Homo sapiens: one gene and its partners. The protein of the gene in region 1 interacts with the protein of each later gene in a pairwise test. Each region holds a gene or a part of one and is shown on either strand. Other genes may lie near its edges.

Evidence for each region. The genes of interacting proteins can lie anywhere in the genome.
Region 2: the proteins of LRP6 (region 1) and ATP13A2 interact in a two-hybrid assay, tested with the Homo sapiens proteins (one study listed by BioGRID and IntAct).
Region 3: the proteins of LRP6 (region 1) and AMMECR1 interact in binary tests that used the Homo sapiens proteins (3 or more experiments, as listed by UniProt).

Annotation. Positions count from the first base shown.
Region 1 is NC_000012.12:12,181,832-12,187,044, forward strand, and holds part of LRP6 (low-density lipoprotein receptor-related protein 6 isoform b precursor), read right to left. Parts: coding exon 5,092-5,213; intron 2,281-5,091; coding exon 2,149-2,280; intron 1-2,148. UniProt on the Homo sapiens protein: Component of the Wnt-Fzd-LRP5-LRP6 complex that triggers beta-catenin signaling through inducing aggregation of receptor-ligand complexes into ribosome-sized signalosomes.
Region 2 is NC_000001.11:16,994,127-16,998,438, reverse strand, and holds part of ATP13A2 (polyamine-transporting ATPase 13A2), read left to right. Parts: intron 1-1,263; coding exon 1,264-1,419; intron 1,420-1,942; coding exon 1,943-2,053; intron 2,054-2,138; coding exon 2,139-2,185; intron 2,186-2,274; coding exon 2,275-2,463; intron 2,464-4,312. UniProt on the Homo sapiens protein: ATPase which acts as a lysosomal polyamine exporter with high affinity for spermine. Also stimulates cellular uptake of polyamines and protects against polyamine toxicity.
Region 3 is NC_000023.11:110,258,284-110,262,595, reverse strand, and holds part of AMMECR1 (nuclear protein AMMECR1), read left to right. Parts: intron 1-4,312.

The DNA.
Region 1 (5,213 bases):
GACAAGAATCTTTGTGCTTGATAGGAATGTTCTAAAATTGGATTGTGGTGATAACTGCGTAACTCTGTAAATTTACTAAAAAGTCACCGAATTGTACAATTTAAAAAATGGATGGATTTTATATGCTATGTAAGTTACATCTCAGTAAAACTGTCTTAACAAAGAGAAATACAGGGCAATACCTCACAGAATTGAGGACAAAGCAAGCTATGGAGAAACAAACAGCTGCAATGGAGGGAAGGAACCAGATAAACATAACACAGTGGTTAAGAGTTGTGGATCCAATATAATTTGATTCAAGAAGCTACACAAACTTTGGGAAAATATCTAATCTCGCTAAGCCTAGTTTCCCCATCTATACCTTGTAAGGTTGTTGTAAGGATTAAAGGAGATAAATCTAAAACTCAGGAAAGTACTGAACATTTAAGTACTCAAGAAATATTAACTAATACTTAACAACAGTATTAAAAAATAAAGATTTTCAGATTTTTATTTCACTGAATTTTAAATTAGGTTTATTTATGAACTGTTTAAAGCCCAAGCCCCAAATACTTAACCACATAACCAAGAATGAAGATACTGAGCTCAATCTTTTTTTCATTTTAAATTGTTCAAGTAAACCACCAGCAAAAAATCGTCTAACTATAGGAAGCTAATAAAAGACAGTAAGCAAATTGACAACTGAAAGAATAAGAAAAGATTCCCAGCTAAATAAATGAGTCCAAAACAAAATACTGGCATATAAACTTCAAGAATCAATCTGCAATTACAAGTCAAAAAACTGAGAAGAGGAGTGAAGCCTCTCAATATCAGCCCTTTCACTCTAGAGCTAATTATAAATGAATTCCAACTTGAAGAAAATACAGCCCAAATGCCACTGCAGGAACCAAGTAGGAATAACTTTGTACAATTCACTGCCCCGGCTAACAACCAAAAGGAGCCAGCCTAGAACTTCACAAAGAAGTCATAGAGCTGTTAATTTGAGCAAGGTGATCAAAACAGAACAGTTAACTTAAGGCTACTACATGCCAAATGCACACATGAAATTCAAAACTGGTTAAATATGTACACTTGCACTGCTGTGAGGGAGCAGATAGACCATTATTGCTAAAATAAATCCTCTGTTTTAAAGTCAGGCTACATTTTTAAAGAAAAAAGCAACATTACAAAAACCTTTTGTTTTAAATTGAAACCAAATTGCTGTCTGCCATGGAAACCATTTGACCAAGAGTCAGCCAGCTTCACCTTTTACTATGAGGATAATTTATCAATGCCAAGTCATAACAAACATCCTGTACACAGACTCAATTCCATCTCTCTGACTCCCTGGCCCCCTTGCCAGGGACTCTAACACACTCCAAAACACAGGCTTCTGCTTTTCAGAGTTAGATAAAGAAGCCACAGCTAAATACAACAATTTTCTTACCAGGTCTTGCTGGTTGCTAGAGAACCAGATGGTGATCCATAGGGGTGAGAATGAAGAATAACATTCTCATTAAGAAGAAAAACAGAAGAACTGGTGTTCTTCCAAACTGGAAGTCCCTTAAAATGTCCTAAATCAGTATACTTTCTCCAACGTGCCCTCTCTCTATAGGGAATTAAGAGTAAGGAGAACAGGCAAAGTGTGTTTCTTAAGTATAAAAAGAAGTTGTTTTAAATATGGATTTTTTTTCCCAGCTCTGAAAGCATCTCTCTGTTGTTAAAAAGCAATTTAAAACATCCTTAAATAATTTGTTATAAAATATATCTCATGATATTCTTTGTAGCTAAAAGTTTAATAAACATACTTTCTTTCACAGAGGTTCTTTATTCACAAATGCTACCTGTTAAAAATATATTCCTTATGCGACTACTCATTTCCATAGTTATCAACTGTGATATCAATGACTATGAGATTTGACAGAAAAGATACAACACGTAACTTTTTTCAAAAATATGTTATTTAAAACACTAAAATAATTTATAAAATAGCATTCAAGTGATGCCACAGAACAAAACACTCCTATTCTATAACCATGTGTGAAGACTGTGAAATTAAGTGACTGGTCTCCCAAAGCAGTATAACCTAGAGAGCTGATTATAGAGAAAACAAATCATGAAGAATTCCAATAGTTATAAAATTTTTCATTTTGGATAATATCTTCTTACCATCTTTGCAGGTTTTTCCATTCTCCAGGAGTTTGACCCCAGTGGGGCAAGCACACTGATAAAAAGGCTTGACTGGAGACATCAAACACAAATGGGAACAACCCCCATTGTCAATTCCACATGGATTTGTGGCTGTCAAATATAAATCACATTGATTAATATCAATGATTACTAAGTACACAAAGGTTAACAACCATAACATGAACAACTGTGATAAGCCAAAATTATTACCAAATGTCATGCAGGTGCTTGACTATCAAACCATCTGCAAAGACAGGAATTAATCAGTGTGAATTTACTTAGTATTTTGTAACCAAAGAGGAATACACAAGAAGTAAAGCAGGAGATCCCTGCCCTAAAAGAGGTTACAATTTAGTCAGTTAAACAAAATTAACAAAAAGCAAAACTAAAAACAAACAAACAAACAAACAAAACCAATAAAACTAAGTGCTATTTTGCACATTATAGACAATAAGTACAGAGTCAAATGGGAAAAAAACCGCTGAGGTTTAAAGAATTGAAGAAGAGCTTTGTGGAGTATACAGCACGGGAGCCTTCAAGGATAGGAAGGATAGATAAGAGGACATTTCAAGTATGGTAAAGCTATCTGAATAAAACTTTGGGGGCTATAAACTGGGTAAGATATTAAGGTGAACAGTATAACTGGAGGTTAAGGTTTCTACTGACTAATAGGAACTAAAGCTGAATGAATACAAAGAATGGGAATAGATTAAAGTGAAGGACACTGAAAGCCAAGAAAAGTAATTATGTTGAAAAGTCATGCCTTGGGAAGATTAACATAGAAGGGATAAGCAGAAAAAAGGGGAAAATGAAAATCAGAGAAAACTAATTAGCAAACTTTGGAAATTATGGAAAGGGATATGTCCAAACAATACTCATAGAAAAAAATCAACATAAGATGGAGACCAATGGAACATGAAAGATAAAAGTAACCAACATGAAAGATAACTGCAAATTCTCAAATTAGTAAAACATAAAGGACCAACAATGCCATTTAAAAAGAAAAACAAGAGGCCAGGCACGGTGGCTCGTGACTATAATCCCAGCACTTTGGGAGGCCTAGGTGCGTGGATCACTTGAGCCCAGGAGTTTGAGACCAGCCTGGGTCACCAACATGGTGAGACCCTACCTCTATAAAAAATACTAAAATTAGCCAGGTGTGGTGGCATATGCCTGTAGTCCCAGCTACTAGGGAGGCTGAGGTGGAAAGATCACTTGAGCCTGGAAGTTCGAGGCTGCAGGGAGCCGTGATCACATAAACGCACAACAGAGCAAGACTCTATCTCAAAAAACAAACAAAAAACAGGGAAAATTCTCTTTTGAGGGCTATGAAGAATAAAAAAATTCATACAAGTGACTGAACATTTTCTTTTGTACAGAAGAGTAACACATACACTTAAAAACATTTTTATGGGCTCATGATCATCAGATTCCAACATAACACTTTCAATATTTGATTATCTCCCCCTAAATGGAGAGCTAATATAAAGCAACATATGTTGCAAAATCTCTTCATTTTTGGCTATGTAATAAAATCTGAAATACACTCAGACAGATGCCAGACATTTATTTACACAAAAGTGCCAAACCCTTAACATTCTCGTATTCCTTTTAAACCTAATTCCAGTCCTCTCTTACAAGTTCTCAGCAGTCATAGCCCGAGTCATTGTAAAGGCTGACCAAACACAGAACCAAAACTAAGGAAAACAAGGTGGGAGGGGTACACAGAAAAGTTTAAGTAGGTATTTTATTTAGCAAGCTGAGGTACTTAAATTCAAATATATTCTAGATTAACAGAGTTTTCATTTAAAAAGAAGAGGCGTTTTTGTGTGTGTGTGTGTTTTTTGTTTTTTTTTTTTTTGAGACATAATTTCTTTCTTGTTGCCCAGGCTGAAAGTGCAATGGCGTGATCTTGGCTCACTGCAACCTCTGCCTCCCGGGTTCAAGCGATTCTCCAGCCTCAGCCTCCCAAGTAGCTGGGATTATAAGCACACGCCACCACGCCTGGCTAATATTTTTGTTATTTTAGTAGAGACGGGGTTTCACCATGTTGGCCAGGCTGGTCTCAAACTCCTGACCTCAAGTGATCCACCTGCCTTGGCCTCCCAAAGTGTGGGATTACAGGCATGAGCCACCGCGCCTGGCCCAAGAGTTTGTTTTTTAAACACACTCACATCAACACATTCAACTACATACTGAAAGAAATAATATGAACAAAAAAACTCATTTGTGTATAAGCCTAGCATATAAGCTATCTCAATTTTTAAATTATCTCTCTCTTCTCCACCTCTAAAAGCGCTGACTCAAAAAGGCTGAGGTGGTCTGTAGTGACAGGCTACAAAATGGTCTAGGCTATTGCCTAACCTGAATTATACTTTTACATTTTCCCTTTTTTTTGAGCAAAGTCTCGCTCTGTTGCCCAGGCTGGAGTGCAGTGGCACAATCTCGGCTCACTGCAATCTCCACCTTCCGGGTTCAAGTGACACTCCTGCCTCAGCCTCCCAAGCGGCTGGGACTACAGGTGCACACTACCACACCCCATTAATTTTTGTATTTTTTAGTAGAGACAGGGTTTCACCAGGTTGGCCAGGCTGGTCTCAAACTCCTGACCTCATATGATCTGCCTGCTTCAGTCTCCCAAAGTGCTGGGATTTTAACTTTTTTTTTTTTTTTTTTGAGACACAGTCTTTCTCTGTCTCCCAGGCTGGAGTGCAGTGGCGCAATCTCAGCTCACTGCAACCTCGGCCTCCCGAGTTCAAGTGATTCTCTTGCCTCAGCCTCCCAAGTAGGATTTTAACTCTTTTTTATTCCCGCCAACTATCTTTGGATATGCCCTCCCTCCTCCTGATCCTCACTAAAGCCAGACATTAGAGTGCTACAAAGCTGTTCCAACTTGCAATTTAAAAATCAAGGATCACTTACCATTTGGCTGCCTCTGTTGGCTGAAGGCATGTATATCCATGGGAGAGAAGATGTCAGAATGGATTTCACGCAGACCCTCACCAGTATACTTGTTGCAAGCCAAAATGGAGTGTGTGCTCCAG
Region 2 (4,312 bases), on another chromosome or scaffold:
AGGTGAGGAGTTCGAAAACAGCCTGGAAATCATGTTGAAACCCCATCTCTACCAAAAATACAAAAAATTAGCCAGGTGTAGTGGTGCACGTCTATCGTCCCAGGTACTTGGGAGGCTGAGGTGGGAGGATCGTTTGAGCCTAGGAGGTGGAGGTTGCAGTGAGCCGAGATCGCACCACTGCACTCCAGCCTGGGTGACAGAGTAAGACTCCGTCTCAGAAAACAAAAAAAAAGTAGTAATTGTGATCAGTATGATTTGTGGGCACACGCCCTGAGCCCTGCCCTCCACAAACTGTCCACACATACTTCATCTGCTCATCTCTTGTGAGGCAGACATGGCAGGATTGTCTGACTCCCTTGCAGGAATGTGCACACAGTAGGTGCTCAATAGTCCCAGCCTGCAGGCATTCAGTAAGGGAGTGCCACTGTTTGCTAGGCAGCCTGCCCAGGACTTCACAGGGCCATGGCGAGCATGCAGTGCTTTTCTCACTCCAACTCATGGAAATATTTGCCCCCTCCATGTAAATATTTCTCTCCCCTCCCCCTCCTCCTTCCCCCTCCCCTTCCTTACCCCATCCCCTCCCCTCCCCTCCTCTTTTGAGACAGAGTTTCACTCTGTTGTCCAGGCTGGAGTGCAGTGGCACGATCTCGGCTCACTGCAACCTCCGCCTCTCTGGTTCAAGTTATTACCCTGCCTTAGCCTCCCAAGTAGCTGGGATTACAGATGCCCACCACAACACCCGGCTAATTTTTGTATTTTAGTAGAGACAGGGTTTCACCATGTTGGCCAGCCTGGTCCCGAACTCCTGGCCTCAAGTGATCTGCCCACCTCAGCCTCCCAAAGTGTTGGGATTACAGGCGTGAGCCACCGCATCTGGCCCCTTGTAAATATTTCTGTTGGTTGGAGTTAGAAAAGCACTCCATGCATGTTATAAAATAATTCCAGCAGAAAGAGAACGACTCCCCCACCCTGCCCCACTGCACACATGATGCCCACACATGCTCTGTCTGACCCACCCCCCCCCGCTGGTTCCAGGGAGCTGGCTGCCACCTGCTTCCAGGAGTGTCTCCCTGTGCCTTTATATCTCCGTCCTCTCTGAGCCTCAGTGTTCCTCTCTGTAAAATGGGGCTGTGATTTCTTGTTCACACCTGGTTACAGAGTTAACTGAGACTTAGAGCTTGTGGGACAATTCTACACAGAACTCCTGGTTTGCTGGTGGGAGGGAGGGGTGTGGAGTGGTCCTCACACCACGTTCCCCACCAGGAGAGAGCATTCCAGTGCTGAAGACGGCACTGCCGGAGGGGCTGGGGCCCTACTGTGCAGAGACACACCGGCGGCACACACTCTTCTGCGGGACCCTCATCTTGCAGGCCCGGGCCTATGTGGGACCGCACGTCCTGGCAGTGGTGACCCGCACAGGTATGAGCCGGGAGGCTGGGCTTGAGAGAGATCCCGGGCTCAGCACCCTTGGGAGAGGTGGAGTGAGGCAGGGTGGGACCTGGAACCCTGGACCCCACGCCCACCTCTGCTGCTGCCCTGCTGTGGGACCTCGGGCCAGTTGCCCCCCATCTGGGGTCTGAGCATTCCCATCTTAGCAGAAGTTGGGCCAGACTAAGGCCAAGCATTGCAAGATCTGGAGGAGCCGCCGGGGTTACAGTGCTGGAGCGGGCAGGGATGTAGCGGGCAGGCAGGAGCCTTCCCTGTGTCTGGATTTTCAGTGGAACCACCCAGTGTTTAGATGCTATCCACTAGTTCCTTGTTTAAAGCCCTTAAAAAGCCTACAAGAGCCGGGCCAGACCTGTTAGGACTCCACACTGCTGATGGCTAATTTCACAAACATCATGTCTTGCAACTCCAGAGGCACGGGTCGGGAGGGCTAGGGGTGGGGAAGGCCTGCCCTCACCCTGGCTTCCCTGCCTTGGGGTCCCCGCCTCCTCCCCAGGGTTCTGCACGGCAAAAGGGGGCCTGGTGAGCTCCATCTTGCACCCCCGGCCCATCAACTTCAAGTTCTATAAACACAGCATGAAGTTTGTGGCTGCCCTCTCTGTCCTGGGTGAGTGGCCCCCTGCACCCTCCTCTGCCCATAGCCCCCCCCACCTGGGTCCCAAATCCCACTCAGTCCTTCGCTGTCCCCACAGCTCTCCTCGGCACCATCTACAGCATCTTCATCCTCTACCGAAACCGGGTAAGCCTTGGGGGTGGGGTGGGGGGTGCTGCCAGCAGGGCCCAGGGGCCAACCAGCCAGGTGCTCACATTCATGGTGCCCCCTGCCAGGTGCCTCTGAATGAGATTGTAATCCGGGCTCTCGACCTGGTGACCGTGGTGGTGCCACCTGCCCTGCCTGCTGCCATGACTGTGTGCACGCTCTACGCCCAGAGCCGACTGCGGAGACAGGGCATTTTCTGCATCCACCCACTGCGCATCAACCTGGGGGGCAAGCTGCAGCTGGTGTGTTTCGACAAGGTGGGGCCGCAGGTGGGGTTGGTGCAGGGGAGCGGGACAGCCACAGGCGCCCCAGTGAGGCCTCCACACCCGCGTTATTCTCTCAGCAGCACCCACAGGATGCCAGGTCCTGTCTAGGGATGGAAACCCCCAGAGGATCCACCCCATCCCACTCCTGCCCTCACTGGGCTCACGGTCTGGCAGATGAAATGTCTAGAATCATGTATTCATGTGTTCAAGAACTGGTGGGGGGCCGGGCGCGGTGGCTCACGTCTGTAATCCCAGCACTTTGGGAGGCTGAGGCAGATACATCACTTGAGGTCAGGAGTTCAAGACCAGCCTGACCAACATGGCAAAACCCCGTCTACTAAAAATACAAAAGTTAGCCAGGCATGATGGCACATGCTTGTAATCCCAGCTACTCGGGAGGCTGAGGCAGGAGAATCGCAGAGGTTGCAGTGAGCCAAGATCATGCCATTGTACTCCAGCCTGGGTGACAGAGCAAAACTCAAAAAAAAAAAAAAATTACTGGTGGGGACCTGGGGCCCTAGTGTGCATCCCGTGCTGCTCCCAACCCTTGGGGCCCAGCAGTGACCAACACAGGCATCCTTGTGGTCACTGGAGTGTGTGTGTCCCCCACCAAAGTAAGTGATCCAGGAGTGCACAAAGGAGCTGCTGGGGCTGAGGAGTGGGCAGTGGGTTTTAGGAAGGAAGCCAGTGGGATAGCTTGATGGGTTCTAGATGGGGACACTTCCTTAGAGAGAAGGCAGTCAAGGAAGCCCCCTGAGCAGGTCCCTCAGTGACCTCAGTGAGGGGCAGGTCGAGGAGAAGCAAGGGTAAAAGGTGGGAGTGTCATAGCACAGATGTACCGTGTGCCTGGGGCACAGGGAGTGGCGTGGCACAGATGTGCTGCGTACCTGAGCACAGGGAGTGGTGGAGCAGGACAGGGCCGGGTAGGCAGTGGCCTGGTTGACAGAGGCTAGGTGACATTCAGAGGCTGTCGGGGGCCACAGAGCGCTTTTAAACTGGGGAGGGGGCCCAGCGCAGTGGCTCATGCCTGGAATCCCGGCACTTCGGGAGGCCGAGGCGGGTGGATCATGAGGTCAGGAGTTCAAGACCAGCCTGGCCAATATGGTGAAACCCCGTCTCTACTGAAAATATAAAAAATTAGCCAGGCACGGTGACATATGCCTGTTGTCCCAGTTACTCGGGAGGCTGGGGCAGGAGAATCGCTTGAACCCGGGAGGCAGAGGTTGCAGTGAGCTGAGATCACACCACTGCACTCCAGCCTGGGCAACAGAGTGAGACTCCGTCTCAAAAAAAAATAAATAAACCGGGGAGGGGGATGACCAGATTCTTATAGTTCCCAGGCTAGCCAAGGAGCCAGACGCGTACTTGGGCAGTTAGAGTCTAGGATGGGGAACGCAGGCACTGACTCATGCGCTCATTCAACAGATATATTGAGGCTGGGCGTGGTGGCTCATGCCTGTAATCCCAGCACTCTGGGAGGCCAAGGCGGGTGGATTGCCTGAGGTCGGGAGTTCGAGACCAGCCTGACCAACATGGTGAAACCCCGTCTCTACTAAAAATACAAAAATTAGGTGGGCGAGGTAGCGCGTGCCTATAATCCTAGCTGCTCGGGAGGCTGAGGCAGGAGAATCACTTGAACCCGGGAGGTGGAGGTTGCAGTGAACTGAGATTGCGCCACTGCACTCCAGCGCGGGCGACAGAGCAAGACTCCATCTCAAAAAATAAAAATAAATAAAAATAAAAATAAATAAATAAATAAATAAATAAATGAGAGAGAGAGAGCGAGCCAACCGTGGGCCGGGTCCTTAACCACAATGCACAAGTGTGGGGAAGTGAAGAG
Region 3 (4,312 bases), on another chromosome or scaffold:
CAACTTTTCTGGACTTGTCCATTTATATCCTAGGGTAATGACCAGAAGAATTACAGTATAATTTTCTGACAATAATGTGATTCTGAATGAATTGTTCAAATACTTGAAGTTGGAAATTTGCCTACATTTGTATACCTTGTTACCCTCATTGCAATCTATAGCTCTTCCTGTTTACTTTTCATCTTTTTTCTCATGTTTCTATACAGCTTCCTCAAATTGTATATATCACATTAAAGAGGCGTGTGTGTGTGCGTGTGTATACATATGTTTGTGTGTGTATACACACATGCACATACCTGGTTTTACTTCTCATTTTTGTTTGGCTTAATTTCTTTTGTATAACAAGATATTAACAATCATACTATTTGGAAAAGATGAACAAAAGAAAACAAGTCTTACAAAATACAATTAATCTTTTTTCCTGGATTCATTTTAGCATCAAAAGTTGTAAGGAGTCATTTTTAAAAGTTGGAATATAATATTTTTCTGTTCAGTAGTGTGCTTATCATTTTTACGTATTATGTTATTATGATTATTTTTGTTAATGGCTGCCATTTATTAAGAATTTACTATGTCAGACATTGTTGAGGAGCTTTACATGCATAGTCCTTGTAATAACCCTTAGGTACTAATATCTACATTTTCAAAATGAGGAAACTGAGAATTAGGTAATTTAAATAATTTACCCACTCACACATCTATTAAGTGATAGAACCAGGATTCAAACCCAGAGCATGTGTCTACAAAATCCATCCCCTAACCGAGGCAAAATTTTCTGATTATTTATGTTTTGCAGCTTTGTCATGAAAATAATGAACTTGAAAGCAAGTTACTATAAATTTTATAAATCATAGATCAGTAATCCTTCAAAAATTCTAGTTAGGAGTTAAGACTGAAATTTTGCAACAGGAAAATCCATAGATATTATTATGGAAAGTATACAACTCAGAGTTGTATAGAGCAGACAGAAGAAAATTGACTTGAACTAATATTGTATTAAGGATAAAGCTTATTACAAAACAATACTACTGTAGGATAGGAAATTGTATTCTTTGGCTACATGGACTAGACTTTAAGAATACAATTTTTTTTGAACATAAAAATTGGTGATTCTTGGCTTCTGGTCATCCCACCTTAAAAACCCATAACTCACAAAATGAATAAATAGAATTAAATGAACTTAGGGGATAGGGGCATAAAGGAGGGAGAAAGCAAAACAAAAAACAAAATAAAACAAAACAAAAAATAAGCAGTGAAATTAAAGGCATTCTAGGTATAGGCATCTTTTTAAAAATTCAAATATCCGGTTCATCTGTGATTAGATAGACTATTGTTTGATTTTCAGAATGTTACTCAATTATATCTCTTCTTTTTTTTTATTGTGGGGAAATATATGTAACATAAAATTTACCATTTTAACCATTTTTAAATGTATAGTCCTGTGGCCTTAAGCGCAATCATGTTGTTGTACAGTCATCACCACCATCCATCTCCAGAACGTTTTTCATCTTCCCCAACTGAAACTCTACCCATTAAACATGAACTCCACATTCTTCCTCCTCCAGGCCCTGGCAACCACCATTCTACTTTGCGTTGCTATGAATTTGACTACTCTAGGTACCTCGTATCAGTGGAATCATATGATATTTGTCATTTTGTGACTAGCTTATTTCACTTAGCATAATGTCTTCAAGGTTCATCCATGTGGTAGCGTGTGTCAATTTACCTTCTTTTTAAGGCAGAATATATTCCATTGTATGTATATACCACATTCTGTTTATCCTTTCATCCATTGGTGGACGTTTGGGTGGGTGGCTTCTACCTTTTGGCTGTTGTGAATAATGCTGCGATGAACATAGGTGCACAAAATATCTGTTTGAGTACCCTTTTTCCTCTTAAAAGTGAACCAGTTTATAGAAGACAATGATCTAGCTTGTGTGTAGTCCCTTAACTCTAAAACCTTTCTTAAAAATATGACCAGATATTTTTTAAAATGAAATGCCTATCCTGAATTAAGTTTTTATTTATAAATAAAATTATAAACTTTTAATTTTAATAAAATTATTTAAACTTTTAGAATTAAAGTACTTGTCATAGTCAAGTTGTATGTTCAAATATGACCGGGTATTTTTTAAATGAAATGCCTATCCTGAATTAAGTTTTTTAAATATATATATAAACATAATCTTTTAAATGTAAAGTACTTGTCAAAGTCAAGTCATATGTTCTCCTAATTGAAATTTTGATTTTAGATTGAAATAAAATCTTATAAAGAGGCTGAGGATTTCTTCTCAATTGTGAAAATACATAGTATTTGTGTAGGTAATGAAAAGTTTATGAGAAGTACATGGAACTATTATAAATAGACTATTCTTTGTCTGACCTTGAAGGATCTGGGTAAAAGCAGGAAAGATTATAGAAAATACGAAGCAGGATGGAGAGCTCAGAATTATTGATAAAAGTCTATCCATAGAATTTGGTGATAAAGTCCACAAATTACCCTATTTATCATTGCTCAAGACTTCAAAGTAGAAATATTCTTTGTCCGAGCTGAAGGAGATAATTTCCAGTATTGTGTTTATGGCTTTTATATATTAGAAAGCAGAGGCAGATTCATTTCCCCAATTTTAGTACTTAGAAAACATACTTTTATAGAGAGGAAAATTACCACTAATATAGATGAATATAAACATCTCAGTCAAAAAAGATTCCTGGCCGGGCGCGGTGGCTCACGCCTGTAATCCCAGTAATCCCAGGCCAGCGGATCACGAGGTCAGGAGATCGAGACCATCCTGGCTAACACGGTGAAACTCCGTCTCTACTAAAAATACAAAAAATTAGCCGGGCGTGGTGGCGGGTGCCTGTAGTCCCAGCTACTCGGGAGGCTGAGGCAGGAGAATGGCATGAACCCGGGAGGCAGAGCTTGCAGTGAGCCAAGATTGCGCCACTGCACTCCAGCCTGGGTGACAGAGCGAGACTCCATCTCTTAAAAAAAAAAAAAAAAGAAAAAGAAAGTTTCCTTAAAATTTTGGCTAATAAATTTCCCAGCAAAATGCAGATCTATTTCTTTATGTAAATTCAAGTTGGCAGTAATTTTTCTAGAACACATTAAGTAATTAATAGATGTATTCTTATTCAGCAAAACAGGATTGTGGTCTGTCACCACACTTAAAAGACTATCTTTTTTTCTCCTTTGTTGTACTTAGACCTCTCGGCAGTGAAATAATTATGCAGGTGCTGGCAGTTCTAGAACTTGATTGTGAACTATGCCACTTTTGTTGAACTACTTAATTCTAAGAAATTAGCAATGAAAGTTTAGCCCTTTCTAGGGAACAGTATGACCACATAAAAGGTGATGTGCTGTGTTTTGTTTTGGAGTTTTATTTTGTTCTGTGTGGGTTAGTGGGGTTGTGTGTCAGGGGAGTTTGAGGGGGGATTGATTGCTTGCATGGTACAAATATTCACTTTCCATTAGATTTTTTGAGATACTGAAAATAGCTAACAAACCTACTTTATTACTTTCAAAGGTCCTAGCTAGATTGGGTACTTATGGGATTCATTGTAAACTGAATTTGCTTTTATATTTTGGTGTTGTAATCTGGCATTTTTCTAAAGCAGTATGAGTTTAAAGCCATTATAAGCAGCATAATATTTTCCCTGTCATAGTAGACCATCGTGTGATCATTTTTATTCTTGATTATTTGGGTAACCACTCTAGGCTCATTGTGAACACTTAGATTAAACAAGTTCCTCCTCCCTCTCATTTAATATTAGTCTTTATGGTAGCATCACCCAGATTGATTTTTCTTATGAAAAGAAAAGCTGTATGAATCACCTCTGACTGTACATTATTGTTATGGAAGCTCATTCTGGAGATGTTAAGGCCAAACAATTTTTGGCAAGTGGTTGTGGCAAGACTTCTGGCTAAAGTATGCATTTTGGGGAAATAAATTAGATGTATCACAAACAATGCAAAATTAATTAGTTTAATTTACAACCTACATTTTTTGCCTTTTTATAAAAGAGATGATGGCCTGAGTCCTAAAACTTATACCTAATTTGATAGTTTCAGTTTATTAATTACAAAATGAGAAACATTTGTCAGATTTTATAGGCACTTAATTTAAGGTACAGTTTGGAACCTAGGTTGTTGTACGCTCTTTACTCAAAATTATCCACATGAAGCATGGTGAACTATCTGCTCAAACTGGAATCCTCATTTTAGCCATGAGGTTAATGCACTCCTTCGTTATCCCAAGGTTGTGCTAATGTGCAGAGATGTAGCCACAAAATTCCCAGCAGAATGTGGAAA